Homo sapiens: one gene and its partners. The protein of the gene in region 1 purifies or fractionates together with the protein of each later gene. This does not show direct contact. Each region holds a gene or a part of one and is shown on either strand. Other genes may lie near its edges.

The links. The genes of interacting proteins can lie anywhere in the genome.
Region 2: the proteins of HELLS (region 1) and RCBTB2 purify together in Homo sapiens (affinity purification with mass spectrometry; one large-scale study listed by BioGRID and IntAct). This does not show direct contact.
Region 3: the proteins of HELLS (region 1) and MYSM1 purify together in Homo sapiens (affinity purification with western blotting; one study listed by BioGRID). This does not show direct contact.
Region 4: the proteins of HELLS (region 1) and HK1 purify together in Homo sapiens (co-immunoprecipitation; one large-scale study listed by IntAct). This does not show direct contact.

The regions. Positions count from the first base shown.
Region 1 is NC_000010.11:94,593,382-94,598,696, forward strand, and holds part of HELLS (lymphoid-specific helicase), read left to right. Parts: intron 1-117; coding exon 118-234; intron 235-1,313; coding exon 1,314-1,473; intron 1,474-3,478; coding exon 3,479-3,575; intron 3,576-3,653; coding exon 3,654-3,730; intron 3,731-5,315. UniProt on the Homo sapiens protein: Plays an essential role in normal development and survival. Involved in regulation of the expansion or survival of lymphoid cells. Required for de novo or maintenance DNA methylation. May control silencing of the imprinted CDKN1C gene through DNA methylation.
Region 2 is NC_000013.11:48,511,674-48,516,080, forward strand, and holds part of RCBTB2 (RCC1 and BTB domain-containing protein 2), read right to left. Parts: intron 4,069-4,407; coding exon 3,913-4,068; intron 3,683-3,912; coding exon 3,532-3,682; intron 1,223-3,531; coding exon 1,056-1,222; intron 502-1,055; coding exon 343-501; intron 205-342; coding exon 97-204; coding exon of another isoform or gene 4-96; exon of another isoform or gene 1-3.
Region 3 is NC_000001.11:58,657,656-58,662,062, forward strand, and holds part of MYSM1 (deubiquitinase MYSM1), read right to left. Parts: intron 3,857-4,407; coding exon 3,751-3,856; intron 3,573-3,750; coding exon 3,515-3,572; intron 2,501-3,514; coding exon 2,342-2,500; 3' UTR 1-2,341. UniProt on the Homo sapiens protein: Metalloprotease with deubiquitinase activity that plays important regulator roles in hematopoietic stem cell function, blood cell production and immune response.
Region 4 is NC_000010.11:69,395,347-69,399,753, reverse strand, and holds part of HK1 (hexokinase-1), read right to left. Parts: intron 1,160-4,407; coding exon 926-1,159; intron 1-925. UniProt on the Homo sapiens protein: Catalyzes the phosphorylation of various hexoses, such as D-glucose, D-glucosamine, D-fructose, D-mannose and 2-deoxy-D-glucose, to hexose 6-phosphate (D-glucose 6-phosphate, D-glucosamine 6-phosphate, D-fructose 6-phosphate, D-mannose 6-phosphate and 2-deoxy-D-glucose 6-phosphate, respectively).

The DNA of each region.
Region 1 (5,315 bases):
TTTGTTTGGCCTCCTTTGTTTAAGTCTTTAATAGTTGTAATTGAAAACATTTTTCTCCTTCAGTCTTGTTGGTTAATTTATTTTAATCTGTTGTATTTACATCCTTTTTGCTTTTAGATGCACAGCTTCAACACGGATCCAGAGGTGTTTATCTTCTTAGTGAGTACACGAGCTGGTGGCCTGGGCATTAATCTGACTGCAGCAGATACAGTTATCATTTATGATAGTGATTGGGTAAGTTGGAAGTATAGCAAGGAATATGCTGATTATATTTCCATTTTGAATTTTTTTTTTTTTTTGAAATGGAGTCTCACTCTGTTGCCCAGGCTGGAGTGCAGTGGCACGATCTCGGCTCACTGCAACCTTCACCTCCTGGGTTCAAGTGATTCTCTTGCCTCAGCCCCCTGAGTAGCTGTGACTATAGGTGTACACCACAATGCCTGGCTAATTTTTGTGTTTTTAGTAGAGACGGGGTTTTGCCATGTTGGCCAGGCTCTCTTGAATCCTGACCTCAGGTGATCCGCCCACCTCGGCCTCCCAAAGTGCTGGCATTACAGGCTTGAGCCACCACACCCAGCCTCCATTCTGAATTTTTTTTTTTTTTTTTTTTTGAGAAGGAGTTTTGCTCTTGTTGCCCAGGCTGGGATTAAGTGCTGGGATTACCAGCATGAGCCACCGCGCCCGGCCATTCTGAATTTTTAATTTTTAATGGTACATGTTACAAATTTACTTATCTATTTTGAAAAGATACCCATTTTCAGCTAAGAGTTATTTCTTCATAAAGTTTTTTGCAAGTAAAAATTGAAAATTTTTTTTTACTTTTGTTTTTAGTGACAGGGTCTCACTATCACCCAGGCTTGAGTGCAGTGGCACCATCACGGCTCAGTAGCCTTGACCTTTTGGATTCAAGTGATCCTCCCACCTCATTCTCTCAAGTAGCTGGGTCTATGGGTGTGCTACCATGCCCACAAAAAATGTAAAAATTAGTGAGACCACGTCTCACTGTTTGCCCACGCTGGTCTTGTATCCTCATATGATCCTCCTGCCTTGGCTTCCCAAAATGCTGAGATTATAGGAGTGAGTCATCGTGCCCATCCTGAAATGTTTTCTTTAGGGTATTTAAACTTTTTTGTTAATATTGTCAAGGATCTGTGGAATGATAATTTTGTCTATGAAGCCACTCTGGAAGTTTAAATTAAGACACCACTATTTAAAAGTTCCTGGCTAGATCATTCATGTTGACTTTATCCACATGAGTTTATGTTAATTTTAACCTAATACCGTTAAATATTATTTTTCTTTTTAACTTTAAGAACCCCCAGTCGGATCTTCAGGCCCAGGATAGATGTCATAGAATTGGTCAGACAAAGCCAGTTGTTGTTTATCGCCTTGTTACAGCAAATACTATCGATCAGAAAATTGTGGAAAGAGCAGCTGCTAAAAGGAAACTGGAAAAGTTGATCATCCATAAAAGTAAATAACACTTATGTAGTGCTTTATTGTTTAAATTGTGCATTGTGTGTTGTGGATTTTGTTTTTATTTTGTTTATAAAATATTACAGCCTGGGCCGAGTTCTGTGTCTCACACCTGTAATCCTAGTACTTTGGGATGCCAAGGTGAGTGGATCACGAGGTCAGGAGTTCGAGACCAGGCTGGCCAAGATGGTGAAACCGCGTCTCTACTAACAATACAAAAATTAGCTGGGCTCGGTGGCGGGCGCCTGTAATCCCAGCTACTCAGGAAGCTGAGGCAGGAGAATCGCTTGAACCCGGGAGGAGGAGGTTGCAGTGAGCCGAGATCGTGCCACTGCACTCTAGCCTGGGTAACAGAACAAGACTCTGTCTCAAAAAAAAAAATATTAACAGCCTGATATGACAGGATTTAAATAAGCAGTGGGGAATTTGGGAGCCTAAACTAAGTTGGTCACCATAGACATAAAAGAAAGAATGTTAGCGAGTATGTAGATATGTAGATGAAGAGCAGATGGGCAGAGAAAAGGGGTCAAGGATAACTACATGTTCCTGATAAGAGATTGGCTTGCTAAAAGTTTTAAGATAAATATTTTGCAAGTTCCATGTATTAAAATATTAAGTGTATTTAAGTGTTATAAAAAATCTATTTATTTATTGAACCCACTGTTTCACAGAATATTTCACTGCAGAATGCCCTTTTTATAGTTTTGGACACTTTTTTTTCCTTTTTCATTTCCTTATCATAACCAGATGGGTCTCAACAATGCTTTTTAATCTAGAAAAAATTCTGAGGAGGTGGGGAACTGACATAGGTGAAAAAGTTTTGTTCCTGAGATTCCTTAGAGAAGTTATACTTCTATCCATTCACCATAAAATTTTCTTTGAATAAATGGCTTGATAGCTACCTGAAGAAATGTTGAAAATCATTTATGTAAATCATCAAGCCCTAGAGAAATGGGAACATGATAATGTTAATGTGAAAAGTAATGTTGGAAATCACTAATAATTTATTTTATACTCCTTTTCCACTTGTAAATACTTTCTCTGGGTTTTGAGGTAAGAGTGTATTAAGGTTTAGACAAAATTAATTTGGTGAAACATTTAGATTGTAATTGGAACTTGCATTGGGGAAAAAGCATAATTTTTTTTTAAGAGACCATTTAACTTTTTTACCCAGGTTGTTCTCGAACACCTGGACTCAAGTGATCCTCCTGCCTTAGCCTCTTCAAGTGTTGGGCTTATAGGTGTGAGCCACTGTGCTCAGCCCTATTTTCGATTTTTTAGTAGATTAATTTTGTAGAAAATTTTGAAGGGATTTTTTTAAATGCTGACATTTTTCAGTTGAGTTATTACATACATACAGCAAAATGCACAGATCTTAAATGTACAGGTTAATGAAGTTTGACCAGATTTATGTACTCCTATGTAACTATCATCGAGATCAAGGTAGCATTTTCATCATCCAAGAAATTTTCTTTGTTCACCCTTTCCAGTAATTCCTATGCTCCCCTTACCATCACTAGGAAGCATCCAGTATTCTGATTTTTGTCACACTGATGAGTCTTTTTTCTGTTTAGCTATTTTGTTGAATATATTTTTTCAACACAGAGTCATCTGTGTTGTTTTTAGTAGAATTTTTTTCTTTTAATTGGTGAATAGTTTGTTTTTTCCATTCTCCTGTTGGTCGACATTTAAATTATTTCTAGATTCTGGTTATTATGAATAAGTTGGTCCTGTACAAGTCTTTGTGGACATAATGCATTTTTTGGTCCTTGATCTTAGGGAGGGTGCGTGTTTAACTACTGGAAACTACCAGCCTTTTCCAAAGTGGACATATCATTTTCCAGTCCTACCAGCGAAGCCTGAGAGCTTCATTTGCTTTTATTTTTTATCAACACTTTTTTTTGCCGTCCTTCTTAATGCAAGCCATTGTGATTGGTTTGTAATATGTTGTATTGTAGTTTTAAAAGGAATTTTAATGTTTTTAATTTCTCATTTTTTTTAGATCATTTCAAAGGTGGTCAGTCTGGATTAAATCTGTCTAAGAATTTCTTAGATCCTAAGGAATTAATGGAATTATTAAAATCTAGAGATTATGAAAGGTGAGTTTTTAATTTTAGAAAGATTTAATTTGTAGCTTTGAATTATTCACATAGACTTGAATATTTTGTTTTCTATAGGGAAATAAAAGGATCAAGAGAGAAGGTCATTAGTGATAAAGATCTAGAGTTGTTGTTAGATCGAAGTGATCTTATTGGTAAGTATTATGCTTTTTTTTAATGGAAGCTTCGAAACATACACTTAATTAGCATAATGTAATGAACCCCTTGTGCAATTCATTCAGCCACATGTATCCAATCTTGTTTTATTGTCATTTTTCTTCTTAGAGTATTAAAATCAAATCTCAGACATGACATTTTGCCCATAAATGTCATTATCTTTAACTTCTTCCATAATTCAGATATTTTCTGTAAACTGGTAAATAACACTTGTAAATGAATATATTCAAGTTCCTGTCTTAGTTAAGAATACCAGTGCTTTGTTCTCATATTTTTCGTCATACCAGGAGGCACATCGTATCTGGATTTCTTATTTCCAGTGAGCTAAGATTAATCAAGATAATGTTATAAAGTGTCTTGTCAGCCTTCATCCTTTACTTAACACGATGATTTATTTTATTTTATTTTATTTTTTTGGAGACAGAGTCTTGCCCTGTCGCCCAGGCTGGAGTGCGCTGACACGATCTCAGCTCACTGCAACCTCAGCCTCCTGGGTTCAAGGGATTCTCCTGCCTCAGCCTCCCTAGTAGCTAGTATTACAGTCGCCTGCCACCACACCTGGCTAATTTTTGTATCTTTAGTAGAGACAGGGTTTCGCCATGTTGGCCAGGCTGGTCTTGAACTCCTGATTTCAGGTGTTGTGCCCACCCCAGCCTCCCAAAGCACTGGGATTACAGGCATGAGCCACTGCACCAAGCCTAACGTGGTGATTTTTAGTATCCCTTGAAAGTGGCTGATAAGAACCATTATTAACTTAATCATTGCAAAATGGTGATTTTTCTTGTTCTGTCATTCTTTTATTAGCTGGGTTATTTAAGAACTTTCCCTTACAGTTTCCCTGAGATAGAAGAGAGCCAGGATATATTGCTTCTTTTTTTTTTTTTTATCAGTTTTTAGAATACCACCTTATGATCTGATGCCTACAGTGATGACCATGAATTATTTTGAAAACAAAAATAATATTTTGTACTTCATAATTTCCTAATTATTTTACAACATATTACTGTCGTCTAGGCTATTGATTATTTGTCTGTTGCATCTGTATGGTGGAGATACTGTATAATCTTTTTTTCCCAACTGTATTCCGTGACATTTTGGTCTTTTGAAATTGGTGATGGCAGTAACATTCATATCACGGATACAGGCAGAAACTAGAAACCCCAGTCTTTGTTTTTAACAAAAAAGGGTCTTGCTTTGTATTCCTGGCTAGAATGCAGGAGTGCGACTATAGCTCATTGCAGCCTAAAAGTCCTGGGCTCAAGGGATCCTCCAGCCTCAGCCTTTGGAGTAAGCTGGGATTATAGGCATGAGCCATTGTGCCTCAGTTTTTGTTTTTTTTGAGACCCAATTGTTAAACATTTACCTGCGTGGCACTGGCTACAGTGTCATGATATCTTATTTTCAAATATGTTGTTCATTTTAAAATTCAATTCTGTGTCTTATTGAATCAAAATAAAATATATTGGTTGGAAGTTTTTTTTTTTTTTTTTTTAATCAGATGTATTTTCCAAACATTTTCTTCTACTCTGGCCTGTCTCTTCACTTACTTACTTAGTATCTTCT
Region 2 (4,407 bases), on another chromosome or scaffold:
TTTTCATCCTGCCAACAAATCTATGTTTTTAATACATTGATATCTTTGCCAGCGAAGACTTAAAAATACACGCACACAAACTGACAGTGGACGTACCCTCTGGACACGGATGCCTTGCAAAGCTGCCACTCTGCAAGGGGTTGGCTGGTTGCCACTGTTGCCGAGTCCAAGCTGCCCGTTTCCGTTGTAACCCCAGACATAGACCTGAGAGAAAATGAGACCCTCAATCCTCTCAAGAGACAAATGGCCAGCAAGCTGTCTGTTATGTGGGACATACCATACTGGCATGAGACTGATGTGGCAAACACGGTTTTTAAACAAGATGTAAAATAACTTCCTTACCTCCCCCGTGTCTACTACTGCCATGCAGCACATCTGCCCACATGCTATGGTCACAACTACTTTATTTTGTAGGCAGCCAGTGACTCTTCGAGGGATTGGCTGATTAACTGTTGATCCAGATCCTACCTGCCCAGAGTTATTATAACCCCAGGCAAATACCTGTTTAAAGGAAAGATCAGTAAATGAAACAGATTAATTTATAAACTGTCTCAACTGGACACTGACATGTACTTGTGGCACCGAGTCTTTCCTCTCAAAGTGCTTCACATTCATAAATCCTCACAACACAGGCAGAGAAGTGTTTATAAAATGCATTCTTATACAATGTACATGATTTTATACAATTAGGTTATTGGTGTTATCTATACAAACAGTAATAATTACTATTAAATAAAATGTAACACAAAAGTATCTACTTTGCCCCAGCCATCTTTTCCAGCATTTGGGGATTTTTCTTATTGCAAATAACCTCTTTACTACAGCAACAGAGAAGGAACAATACCTCCTTTTAAATTTTGCAATTATGGAAGACCTTACTACGTACAGGTAAATGTCACAACATCAACACCCTGACTGTGAATTGCTACCAAAAATAAGGCTGAATTTGAGGGAGGTGGTTATTTTAATCAAATGATTGTATTTCCAGGACTACTATAGAAGTCTACATAATCTTATTGAAAAAAATCAATGAGCTTTATGCTGACTGTTCTCACCTCTCCATCAGATGTTAGCACCAAAGAATGGTAAGACCCACAGGCAACTTCAATGACTTGTTTGTTTGACAGATTAGTAGAGATATGACAGGGCACTAAACCATGATTAGTTGTCCCATTGCCCAGCTGGCTATAAGCATTATGACCCCAGGTAAAGACTTCTCCTTCTGAAAATAAAAAGAAAGACAATCAGTTTTTTACAACATCTACTTCATTATACGAAAATATATGTAGCACAGCTTCCACAAATGAAATCTAAAAATTCAGGTGCAAAAAGCTAATCAACTTCCCCATTCCACCAAAGTCATTCTACAAAAGAATCTATTTGGAAAGTATAAACTGCATTCTACCTCAAAGCAACAAGGTGAAATTTAAATGCATGCAGTTATAATAACTGGAAAATAAGTTTTTAATAAAGAGCAGAGAAAAGGCTGCTGGGAGTAATAGCAAAAACATTAGAATGAAGTCAAATATTAGAAGGCCACTTAACTCCCCTAGGTCTTAATTTCCTTATCTTTAAAATAATCACCAAGTTGATTTTTAAAAATCTTTGTTATTATTTATTGGGTAGCATAATATACAGAAAAGTTAATAAAACATATATGTACAGTTTTACAAATTAGAAAGCACACACCCATGTACTACTACTTAAGTCAAGAAATATAACCTTATAATCACCCCCCAAAAGGCCCTCACATATGCATCTTGCATACAAATGTTTAGTTTTTCCTGTTTTTGAAATTTAAATAAATGGAATCATACAGTTTGTACTCATTTCATCTGTATTTTCCAGCATGTTGTCTCTTAGTGTTATATTCTGAATAGTGACTTCTCATTTATCTTCTGGTTTACTAATTTTACTAATTTGCTGTGTTCAAACTGCTACAAAATTTGTCCACTGAATTTTCATATTGATAATCATATTGTTCATTTGGATCTTTTCAAATCTTCTATAATCCCTGCAGATTATTTTCAAGCTCATTTTAATTTCTTCAAATAATAAATACAGCTGTCTTATAATTGGTGTCTGATAATTTTAATGCCTGATATTTAGTAATCCGTTCTTGCTGTCTGTTGTTTCTTCTGGTTCCCATTCATGGTACCTTGTTTCCTTGCATAGCAAGCCCCCCTTATCTGCAGGAGATACATTCTAAGACTCTCGTACTGAACCTGTATATACTGTTTTTCCCTATACGTATATACTTATGATAAAGTTTAATTTGTAAGTTAGGCATAGTAAGAGATTAACAACAATAACTAATAATCAAAGAGAACAATTACAAAATGTACTGTTCACAATGTCACAGATAGAAGATTTGTTCTTACCATAAATCTTAACAACCTCAGCATGGAAACTCTCCATTTTTCATTTAAAGCAAGAACCGTATGGTTTCTCTTTGGCATATCCAAATTGCAAGCATCACTACTCTTGCACTTTGGGGCCATTATTAAGTAAAATAAGGGTGACTTGAACACAAGCACTATGAAACCAAGAGAGTCAATCTAATAACTGAGACAGCTACTAAGTAACTAACGGGTGGGAGTGTCTATGGCAGAGATGCTGGACAAAGGGATGGTTCATGTCCCAGCTGGGATGGAGCAAGATGGTGAAATATCACCCTACTCAGAATGGCACACAATTTAAAACTTATGAATTGTTTATTTTGGAAATTTTACATTTATACTTTCAGACCACAGTCAACTGCAGGTAACTGAAACTTGAGAAAGTAAAACCAAGGATAACGGGAGACTACTGTATATCTGGTTATCTCTGACTATGTGCTGCCTATTGCCACTGAACAATTATTTTGGTTAATTCTCTCAGGCCTAGGATAAAGGTGCCTTCCCCTAGAAAGGATCTGCATTAACTTCTATCATGCCCTTAAGGCACTTGCCATCCAGTACCTTGAATAAATTCAAGGGTTGAGATTTCTTGGACCGTTCAGTCTTGATGTGAATTAAACTACAAATCCATGGTTACAACCTTTTGGGGAGAAGTTTTATTTATTTTCTTCCTTTTTTCCTCCTTGCTTCACTCAGAGCAAGGAATTTTTCTAGTCAATCCCTTATGAAGTGGCTAATCCCTACTACTAATGCCAACTACAGCCATCAGTCACTCTTTAGTGTAAGAATCACAGAATGCTAAGAGTTGGCGGGGGGATGTTGGACACAAGGTTTAGTCTTTCAATTCATAGATCAAGAATCCAAAGTTCAGACAGACTTGCCAAAGTCCACAATCAGTTCGTCAGTGTTTACTGGGCTTACAGCGTTGTCATTCATACATCTAAAATGCCAATGATTCCTAGATTCCATCTGCCACATCACCTTATGCTGGCATTCAGATACATTCATGTTTTATGGTATCCAAAACATAGTCAATTTCACAGGAAGAGCTAGCAACTCTCAACCAATTAAACAATGTTCTCAAGGGCAGCTGCGAATAAAGCTGAAATTCTACATGGGGTTCCTAGGTTACCTGTTGTTGCAAGGACAATATGTGGACCACTCCCATAGCTGAGGCAGGCTATTTTTTTGCCATTTAAAGAATCCAGTCTCCGAGGTTCAATGGTGCTCTGGACGTCACCTAACCCCAAACAGCCACAGCAGTTTGTGCCAAGCACAAAAATCTATGGGAAAAACCACTGTTAGTTCAAGCAGTTCTATTTCTAACAAATCTATAAATTACATCCAAACAGGAATCATCTTCCTTAAGCAAACTGCTTCTTTATATAATAAATAAAACCTAATTTCCATGCTTTTTTTTTTAACCTTTTATTCCTTAGTTCCCCCAAGATCTTCAATTTGGCAAATCCATTTCTAAAAATGTGAGTAGCTGATTTATTTTCTTCAAAATTACCTCATCATTTACTGTAGTGTATAAAACTTCATTGCCAGCACTGCCAAAGACACAAGCCTGACGAATTAACTGTAGTTCTTCTTCAGAACAAAGGGAAAAAATTGGCCACTTTCCCACATCTAACATCTTCAAAGATGACAGAGTAGCCTGTACTGGCTGAAAAGGAAAAAATATATGTTGAAATGACAAATTAAAAAGTGAATTTTCTCTGCCCCTTCAGTTCTGTAGAAGAGGGCGAACACTGGTTTTGGGAGGAACACACTGCATCCATTTTTGAGAGGCCTCTCGCAGCTGCAGGGATTGCCTCTGCCAGCTGCTTTTGGGCGGCTCACAGCCATCGAGCAGCGGAGGCCCGGATGGAACCAGGTCTCCCCTACTCATTGTCCTCAAGGACACAGGAGTCATCCAAAGCTGGGCTTCTGGGAACTGAATGTTCAGCAGATACTTTAAATATTGGCTATGTCTTAAAAGTAGCTGTGGAAACTAGGCTGGTTG
Region 3 (4,407 bases), on another chromosome or scaffold:
GTTTTTTTAAATAGTAGCACTGAGATATTTGTACTTCACACTTCTCTGTATTTTAAAATATACTTTACAAGACAAATGTACTCTATAGTCAGAAAATACTAAGTATTATTTTGAAAACTGTGCTCTCAAGGCCCCAAACTCTTGACAAGTATCATCCTTGAGATCCTCGCAATATGGCTTAGATTAGCAAATATGGTTAAACATTGGCACACAGGGCAAGGAGACTCAGATTTGAGAGCAGAACTTTTAACAATTTCCATTACTTTCCATCACCCAAATTCATCAGTATTATAGGGAAATGTCAATCAAGAAAGCTAGTATAAAACACTTTTTAGTATTTGTTCCCCAATATATCATGAGGAAACAGGTCAAAAGGAAGATGAGTACAAAGGAATCAATCACTGCCTTTCACAGAATCACGCAACTTCGGAGCTTGGAAGGGAATACTAAGCCATAAAATTCAGGCCCTTGATTTACTGGTGAGGAGCATGGGGTCCAGGTTATGTGTTTTGATTAAGGTCACACAGCAAAGTTGGTAACAGAGTTAGGGTAAGAGCTCAGGTTTCCTGACTTTTGGTATAGTTCCTCTTACACTCTCAGCCCTCAAACTAATTGTTTTATAAGCTATACTTCACTGTTTATCCTAAGTGCACACAGAGAAATGGAAAAATACTACCCTTTTTTTTTTAAATGTATGTTAATTTGGAAACTGTATTAACTCAAAATATAAACTTCACAAGAGTAGTCCAACGATTAGAATGAACAATAAAATTTTAGTTCTGGAAGGACATTAAGAAGTTAAGTTAGACTTCAGTTACACAAGAATTAAGGCTCAGGGAAAGTAAACTGTATCTCCCCAAATCACAAAGTTGAGACAAGAACCAGGTCACCTAAAGCTGACTCACTGCTTCTTCCAATACTCCTTATTCTTCATTGGCTATTGATTACAAACAAAGCAAAATATAGAATCAATCTGATTTAGATATAAGGAAACGTTAGTAAGAATGTTTGGTGAATAGCTATAAATCAATTCTCTGACTACTAAGAAATAAACTAAAATCTACTGAATTTCAATAAATGAGGCAGCATTGACTGCTTATTTTATTTTAAAATTGGCTTAAATGCAGATCATAATTCTGAGTTTTGGTGTCATTTGAAGATGACGTAAAGCTTAACAAATGTAAAACAAAATTCTAATGTTTAAAATTCTCTAGATCAAGGGTTGGAGAATAATAGCCAACAGCCTATGTTTTATGAGGCCTGTGAGTTAACAATGGTTTTTATCATTTTAAAGGGCTGTAAAACACACACACACACACACACACACACACACACACACAAAGAAGAATGTCTCATAGACATCATATGTGGCCTGAAAAGCCAAAATTATTTACAAACTGGCCCTTTACATTAAAAAAGTTCACTGACCTCCATTATAGATTCAGAAAGCATATGAAACTGGGCTGAATATGTAACATGTCCTGAAAGGCTTGTTTTAAAAATTAAATCTCTGATTTATTCCAGCTTTATTATCATTTGCCTCTTTCTCCTAGTAGTAGGCAGTAGAAAAAAAGTTTGAGTTATGATTACCTATGTTCCAGTTAAATGAGGTTTTATCACACCTACTAATGTAAGTGGACTCACAATTGAAGCTAATTATTTTATGTGTGTAAAATTGGTTAAAAATTTTCAGATAGCTGAGAAAATGGCATATCTTATGATACTACTGCTATACAATGAAATGGAAGATAGTATCTATGATTAGAAACTGGTAATTTAGTTCTCTCCTTTGGGTTTTTCCTGTTTTTAAGATTTTCTTGTCATGCCTCTCCTGGTCTCCTGTTAGATTTATTAATCAGTAGTTCTAAACCATATTAATTATCTCAGTGACCACCCATCCATATCTCATTTATAGCCATAAACAAATCTCAGCAGAATATATGGAAAGAATGGAAGTGCTTTTAAATGAAATAGGAGATACCACAATGGAACATAAATGACTAGTTCAGGGAAGAAATGACTTAGAGACATAGTCCAAATCCCAAGCTGAACACAACAGTAAAGCCGACCAGGTTGCTTAGTTTCACAGCCTACAGCATTGCTCAGTAAAGGACTAGAACACCGTGGTGGACCCTGGTTTGCAGAACACTCTGATAATCACTATATGAAAACAAATTTGTATCTCTTCCTTTTCACATGATTTATGTGGCAAAGTTTGGATTTTGTGAAATAGAGAAAAAATACCAAAGCTGTGCCAATGTTAACTACAATCACTTCAAGTTTATAACTTTGAAAGTAAGATCTACTGTGTCAAGATTAAAATGTCTTAACTTTAAAATAATCACATTAACAATTCCTTTGTACAGTTCTCTTCGGTTACTCCATTCTCTTGGTTGCTTTTATAATTGGAAAGGAACAAATTTTCTATTTCAGTCAAGAATTCTTCAGCCATAAAGCAATTGGTCACTTTGCTCAGAGTCTTCCTCATACACTCCAAAAGCTAGTTGAAAAGAAAAGTTTTATATTTAAATACAGAAAAAGTATGAGGGTTTGCATTACTATCACTATTTCGTCCCTTTCCAGACCTCACATTTCCTAATGCTCAAATGAGAAACACTCTCCTTAAAAATGGTTGAAGATTAACTTGTGTTTAATAGTCACAGAGCTGGAATGTAGGAAATTGCTGCTGAGGAACACTCAGCTTAGTACTTTTATGATTTTACATAAGGAGACAAACCTGAGATTGTTTATGTGATGCTTTCTACTTCGGACGTATTTGCGACTTTTCTCCATTTGTAGTTACACTTACAAAGCAAAATAATCCTGAGTATACACACACACAAAAATCTAGGTACATAAAAACATAGGATTCTGCATTTCAAAATGAGGATGCTAGCTGGAGTCTATTTCCTTGGAAATGTGCACATACTTTTTCAACAACACACAAAAAACTGGATATAACAGAAAGGAGTAAAACATATTAAAAAGAAACTTAATGTTTAAATTTTCTATCCCCAATTGCTATTTAAAAAGACAAATGTTGCAGATCTACTAGCCTTCAATCATTACAGAAGCAAAACCTAGACGTGAACTGACAGAATTCAAAACTCTTATTTCCTATTAGAAAGTTAAATAAAATGACTATTTAAATTTAATTGTTAGATTTATACCATCATTCTTAAAAATGACCAATTGTTAAGGCTAAAATGGAAACATGGCACTTTCAAATTTAATAAAATAAGAAAAATGTTCTCCATTGTGTATAATAATAATCTGCTAAAATCAGCCAACACTGACAAATTTATTCTAAAATAGAATTTTTTCTATGTGCAAGCTTGGGCAACAAAAAACGTTACTAATTATCTCCTAGAAATTAATTTTCCAAAGGAAAAAGTAATAAAAGAAATATACAGAAAATTATCCACAAAGTATTAGGCATCATGGGAAAACACATTGAGATGAATAGCTTCAGAATCTGTGAACAATGGAACCAATTAAAATGAAGACAGCTTACTTTCTGCAAACAAGTCAGGTCAGAATCCCGGCGAAAGATTTTATCCATGGGGACGCTGCTGTAGGAAGAAATATGAAAACAAACTGGTGAAACGAATACTATAAACTAATCAGTTTCATAATAAACTATCACGGATGCCATACATCACAATTTTATATTTAACTTGGGTTTTCTCTGAAACATAATTTAATGAGCAACACTGCAGATGTGCAACCATCTCAAACCACAGTACATACCTATGGGAGAGCCTGTATTTTTCTATTATCCATCTTGTCTTTTCAAATACTAATCCCCACTGAGGTTCTTCTAACATCTGCTGTACTTCAAATTTGTAAGGTAAGCCTAGAAAAGCATAAAGAAGCACATTGTCATCAACTATTTCTTAACTCTCCAATCTCCTTTTAATTATACTTAAAATTCCCTTCGGTGTTTTTACAGCCATAGCTTTGCAGATCAGCTGAACAGCACTTTAAACATAGTGGGCATTCATTAAATATTTATTGCCCGATTGTACTTGGTCCACTAAGCATATTAATGCCAAGCTATTAATAATAATAATGAGTAAAAGTGCCATTTACATGACAATTCTACGCATGGCACTATGATGGGATGATCACGTAATTTATCACCTAAACCAAGAGACTTTTTGAATGAAAGAAGGTACTATTAATAATTATGCCTGAACCGCAGGTTTAAAGTGGGATTATCCTAGACAAACTAAGACATATTGCCATCCTAGTGATAATTAAAAATATATATATATACAGGTTATTAAGCTTACAACAATGCTGTAAGTTATTGTTTTTTTTTTAACAGGTGAGAAAACTGAAGCTGAGATACATTAAAAATCATATTTAGGCTAGCAAAGTGGCAGGACACAGATGTTAAAACCC
Region 4 (4,407 bases), about 25 Mb from region 1:
AAATAATATGGTCACCCTATTCATAAGGTGAGACATGCGGTGGATCACAATCACACAGCAAGTGCAATCACATGTCCTTCTCTGGCATGGGGGGTCAGATGCCTGACCAGAGGGAGGCCACTCCCTACCCCTCCCTGCCATGAAGCCCAGGGCCCAAACCGCTCCCGCCCTTCCAAGTCTTAGCAAACTGATTCAGCAGATGAACAAGAGAGTGGCTATCCTCCTTTCCTATTTTATTTTTTGAAATAGGGTCTCACTCTGTTGCCCAGGCTGGAGTACAGTGGCGTGATCTGGGCTCACTGCAACCTCCACCTCCCAGGCTCAAGCAATCCTCTTCCCTCAGCCTCCCGAGTAGCTGGGACTACAGGCATTCACCACCATCCCTGGCTAATTTTCAAAATTTTTTTGTACAGACAAGGTCTCACTATGTTGCCTAGGCTGGTCTCAAACTCCTGGACTGAAGCAGTCCTCCCACCTAGGCCTCCCAAAGTGCTGGATTACAGGTGTGAACCACTGCACCCAGCTCCTCCCCTTTCTTAATATCCTCTCCCCACTTACCCAACAGAGCCTCTGGCCTGGCTACAGCTCACCAGGCTTATGAGTGAGCCCACGCCCACCCTCACCTCCTCTCCCACTGCCTAGCCCCCACCTAAGGGGGACCAGGAGGAGTGGGGTGAGGGTCACATCATGCCACTGGTGTGAGCTGGCCAAGTGAAGCCACTTCTCTGTCTCCCTAAGGATCCCAGTCAAACCCTACAAACTGTTCATTACCTTGTCCTAGACAATCCCCAGCTCCTGAACGCACAGCCTTCAGCCTGGCTGGGCTCCCGCAGGGCATTTCCCCAGCGTAAACCACACCCTGATACCCCCTAACCCAAAGGGATCCCAGCAAGCTCTGCGCATCCCAACTGGAAGGCCCACTCACTGTGGATGAAGCTTGTAGAGTGTCCCGTCCACTCCCACAGTCACATTCAGACGGTCCAGTCCTCTGTTCTCGCGGATCTTATCCACAACCGCAGCCATGCCTGCGCCACACAGCTGTGCGGCCCTCCTGGACACCACCCCGCACACTGTCTTGACGAGGATACTGTCATCGCAGGTGCTATTCAGACCTAGCTGCTGGAGGATAGCCCGGACCTGGAGCAGTGCTAATCGGTCACTGTGGGGGACAAGAGCCAGAGGGCTGGATGAAGCAGGACCCACAAGAGCAGCCTGGAGACCACGTCCAAAGGACGCCCCCCGCCCCCAATCACTGTACTCATCCACAGACAGAGTCAAGGGCAAGTGTTACATGTTAAACTGTGGAGAATTTGGCAAATCTAGCAAAATAAAAATTGGAAAATCTAAACCATTCACTATCTCAACATCTAGGAAAATGCTATTAACATTTTAATATATTTCCTTCCAGTTTATTTTTCCTAGCTGGTATGCTTCTCATGATATGCAAAATGGGATTATCCTTGATATGTGATTTTCTTTCTCTTTCCTGTTTCATGCATTGAGCAATTTCCCACAGCCTTATCTGAGAACAGGATTGGAAACAGCTGCTGCAGTATTCCCTCTAGGGATGCACCATGATTTCTTTAGCCAGCTTGGAGAAATTCAAGTTAATTGCAATTTTCTGCTATTATAAAGAAACATTTTGATAAGGTTTGTTTATAAATCTTTGTGTGCAATTCTGATGTTTTTCCTTAGGATAAATTTCTGGGTCAACGAGCTTTTGCTACACATTGCCAGATGCCTTACAGAAAATTGTATCCATTTACTCTTCAGCAGAGTATTTGGCCACACTTATCCTCACTGGAAAAGAGCATTTTTTTACAACTTTTGACAGTTTTATAAGAAGGCATCACAAGACTGTAGTTCAATTTATATTATTCTCTATTAGTGAGGATGATCTCTTTTTTTTCCATTTGTTTTTTGGCCATATAAACTACTTCTTACGTCTCAAGACTTTTCTCCTGATATATTTGTCTTATTTATATTAAATTGAAAGAGACGATAACTGGGATGGTACAATGAAGACCAGCCAGGCTTCTTGGAGGACTTACCATGTAACATATATTTTACATACATTACCTTACTTACTCCTCAAACAACCAATGAATGTATGATTATTCCCATTTTAAAGATAAGGCAACTGAGGCTGGGAGAAATTGAGTATTGCAAAGCACACAGCCGGTGGAGAAGAGCAGGTGTAGACCAGACCTGCCAAAGCCCACCATGCCCTGCTAGGCGTCTTGTCATACACAGTACAAATGTCTTCCTCAGTTTACCGTTGCCTTTTAAGTTTGATTACTTTTTTTTTTTACTTACAGACACTATGTAGCTATATTTGGCCATTTTTCTTTATGATTTCTTTCTTTGCTATTATGCTTGAAAAGACTTTCCATACCACTTCATACCCATTAGGATGGCTATTCTCAACTCAGAAAATAACAAGTGTTGGCGAGGATGTGGAGAAACTAGAACTTTCACGGGCTGCTGGTGGGAATGTAAAATGTTACAGCCACTGTGGAAAACAACATGGTGGTTCCACAAACAACTGAACAGGGAATTACCATATGATCCCGCAAGTCCACTTGGGGTGCGTACACACACACACACAAACTGAAAGGAGATACTGGTCACCCGTGTTCACAGCAGCATTTGTCACAATATCCAAAAGGTGGAAGCAAGCCAAGTGTCCATGGATGGATGAATGAATAAACAAAATGCAGTGTGTGCATGCAATGGAATATCACTCAGCCTTAAAAATAAGGAAATTATGGCCGGGCGTGGTGGCTCATGCCTGTAATCCCAGCACTCTGGGAGGCCAAGGTGGGCAGATTACCTGAGGTCGGGAGTTTGAGACCACCCTGATCAACATGGGGAAACCCCATCTCTACTAAAAATACAAAATTAGCCGGGCGTGCATGGTGACGCACGCCTGTAATCCCAGCTACTCAGGAGGCTGAGGCAGGAGAATCGCTTGAACCCAGGAGGCAGAGGTTATGGCGAGCCAAGTTTGCACCATTGCACCCCAGCCTGGCCAACAAGAGTGAAACTCCGTCTCAAAAAATAAAAATAAAAAAATAAGGAAATTCTAACACATGCCACAATACGGATGAACCTTAAGACATTATGCTAAGTGAATTAAGCCAGTCACAAAGGACAAATGCTGTATGATTCTATTTATATGAAGTATCCAGAGTTGTCAAATCCATAGAGACAGAGAGTAGAATGGTGGTTGCTGGGGTGGGGGGAGGGAGGAATGTGGAGTTAGTGTTTGCTGCGTACAGAGTTTCAGCTGAGAAGATGAAAAGAGTTCCGGAAATGGATGGTGGTGATAGCTGTGCGACTATGTGAATGTACTTAATGTCACCGAACTGTATACTTAAAAACCATTTTGCCTGGGTAAGAGCAGTGTATAGGCTTGTTAGGTTTTTTTTTGTTTAAGGTTTAATATTTTTTTTCTTTTCTTTCTCTTTTTTTTTTTTTTTTGAGACAGAGTCTGTCTCTGTCGCCCAGGATGGAGTGCAGTGGTGCAACCTCAGCTCATTGCAACCTCCGCCACCGGGCTCAAGCCATCCTCCCACCTCAGCCTCCCAAATAGCTGGGACCACAGGAATGTGCCACCACGCCCGGCTAGTTTTTGCACTTTTTGTAGAAATGGGGTCTTGCCATGTTAACCAGGCTGGTCTCGAACACCTGAACTCAAGTGATTCACCTGCTTTGGCCTCCTAAAGTGTTGAGATTACAGGCATGAGCCACCGTGCCCAGCCTACACAGAGCCTACGTTAGGTTATTATGACCATTCTAAGAAGAACACAGTATTTGCACAATTGCTTTTGTTTTTTCTGACCCTTTTTTCCTCCTTCTCACACAGCGTGCCTTAGAAGACAGCAAAGGCCAGGAAGAAATGTACCCTGGACAGGAGAAAAGTAGAAAGAAGGTGGAACAACTTGCTGAGGGGCATCAGCTCCTGGGTGGCCTGGCACTGAACCCCAGGCTGCCTTTCAGATAAATCCAGGTGGGCCCTATGCACCCCCAATACAAGTATGTGTAGTGCATCTTTACCATCTGAAATGGAATCCATATGGCCCTCTTACACACATAATTTCAAATAAATCAATATAATGCCCCAACATAAAGGATGGATAAAAGGAAAGTAAGTAATTTACTTATTTATTGAGATGCAGTCTCGCTCTGTTGCCAGGCCAGGCTGGAGTGCAGTGGCGCGATCTCAGCTCACTGCAACCTCCACCTCCTGGGTTCAAGTGAGTCTCCTGCCTCAGCCTCCCAAGTAGCTGGGATTACAGGCATATGCCACCACACCCAGCTAATTTTTTGTATTTTTAGTAGAGATCGGGTTTCACCATGTTAGCCAGGATGGTCTCAAATCTCCTGACCTCATGATCCGCCTGC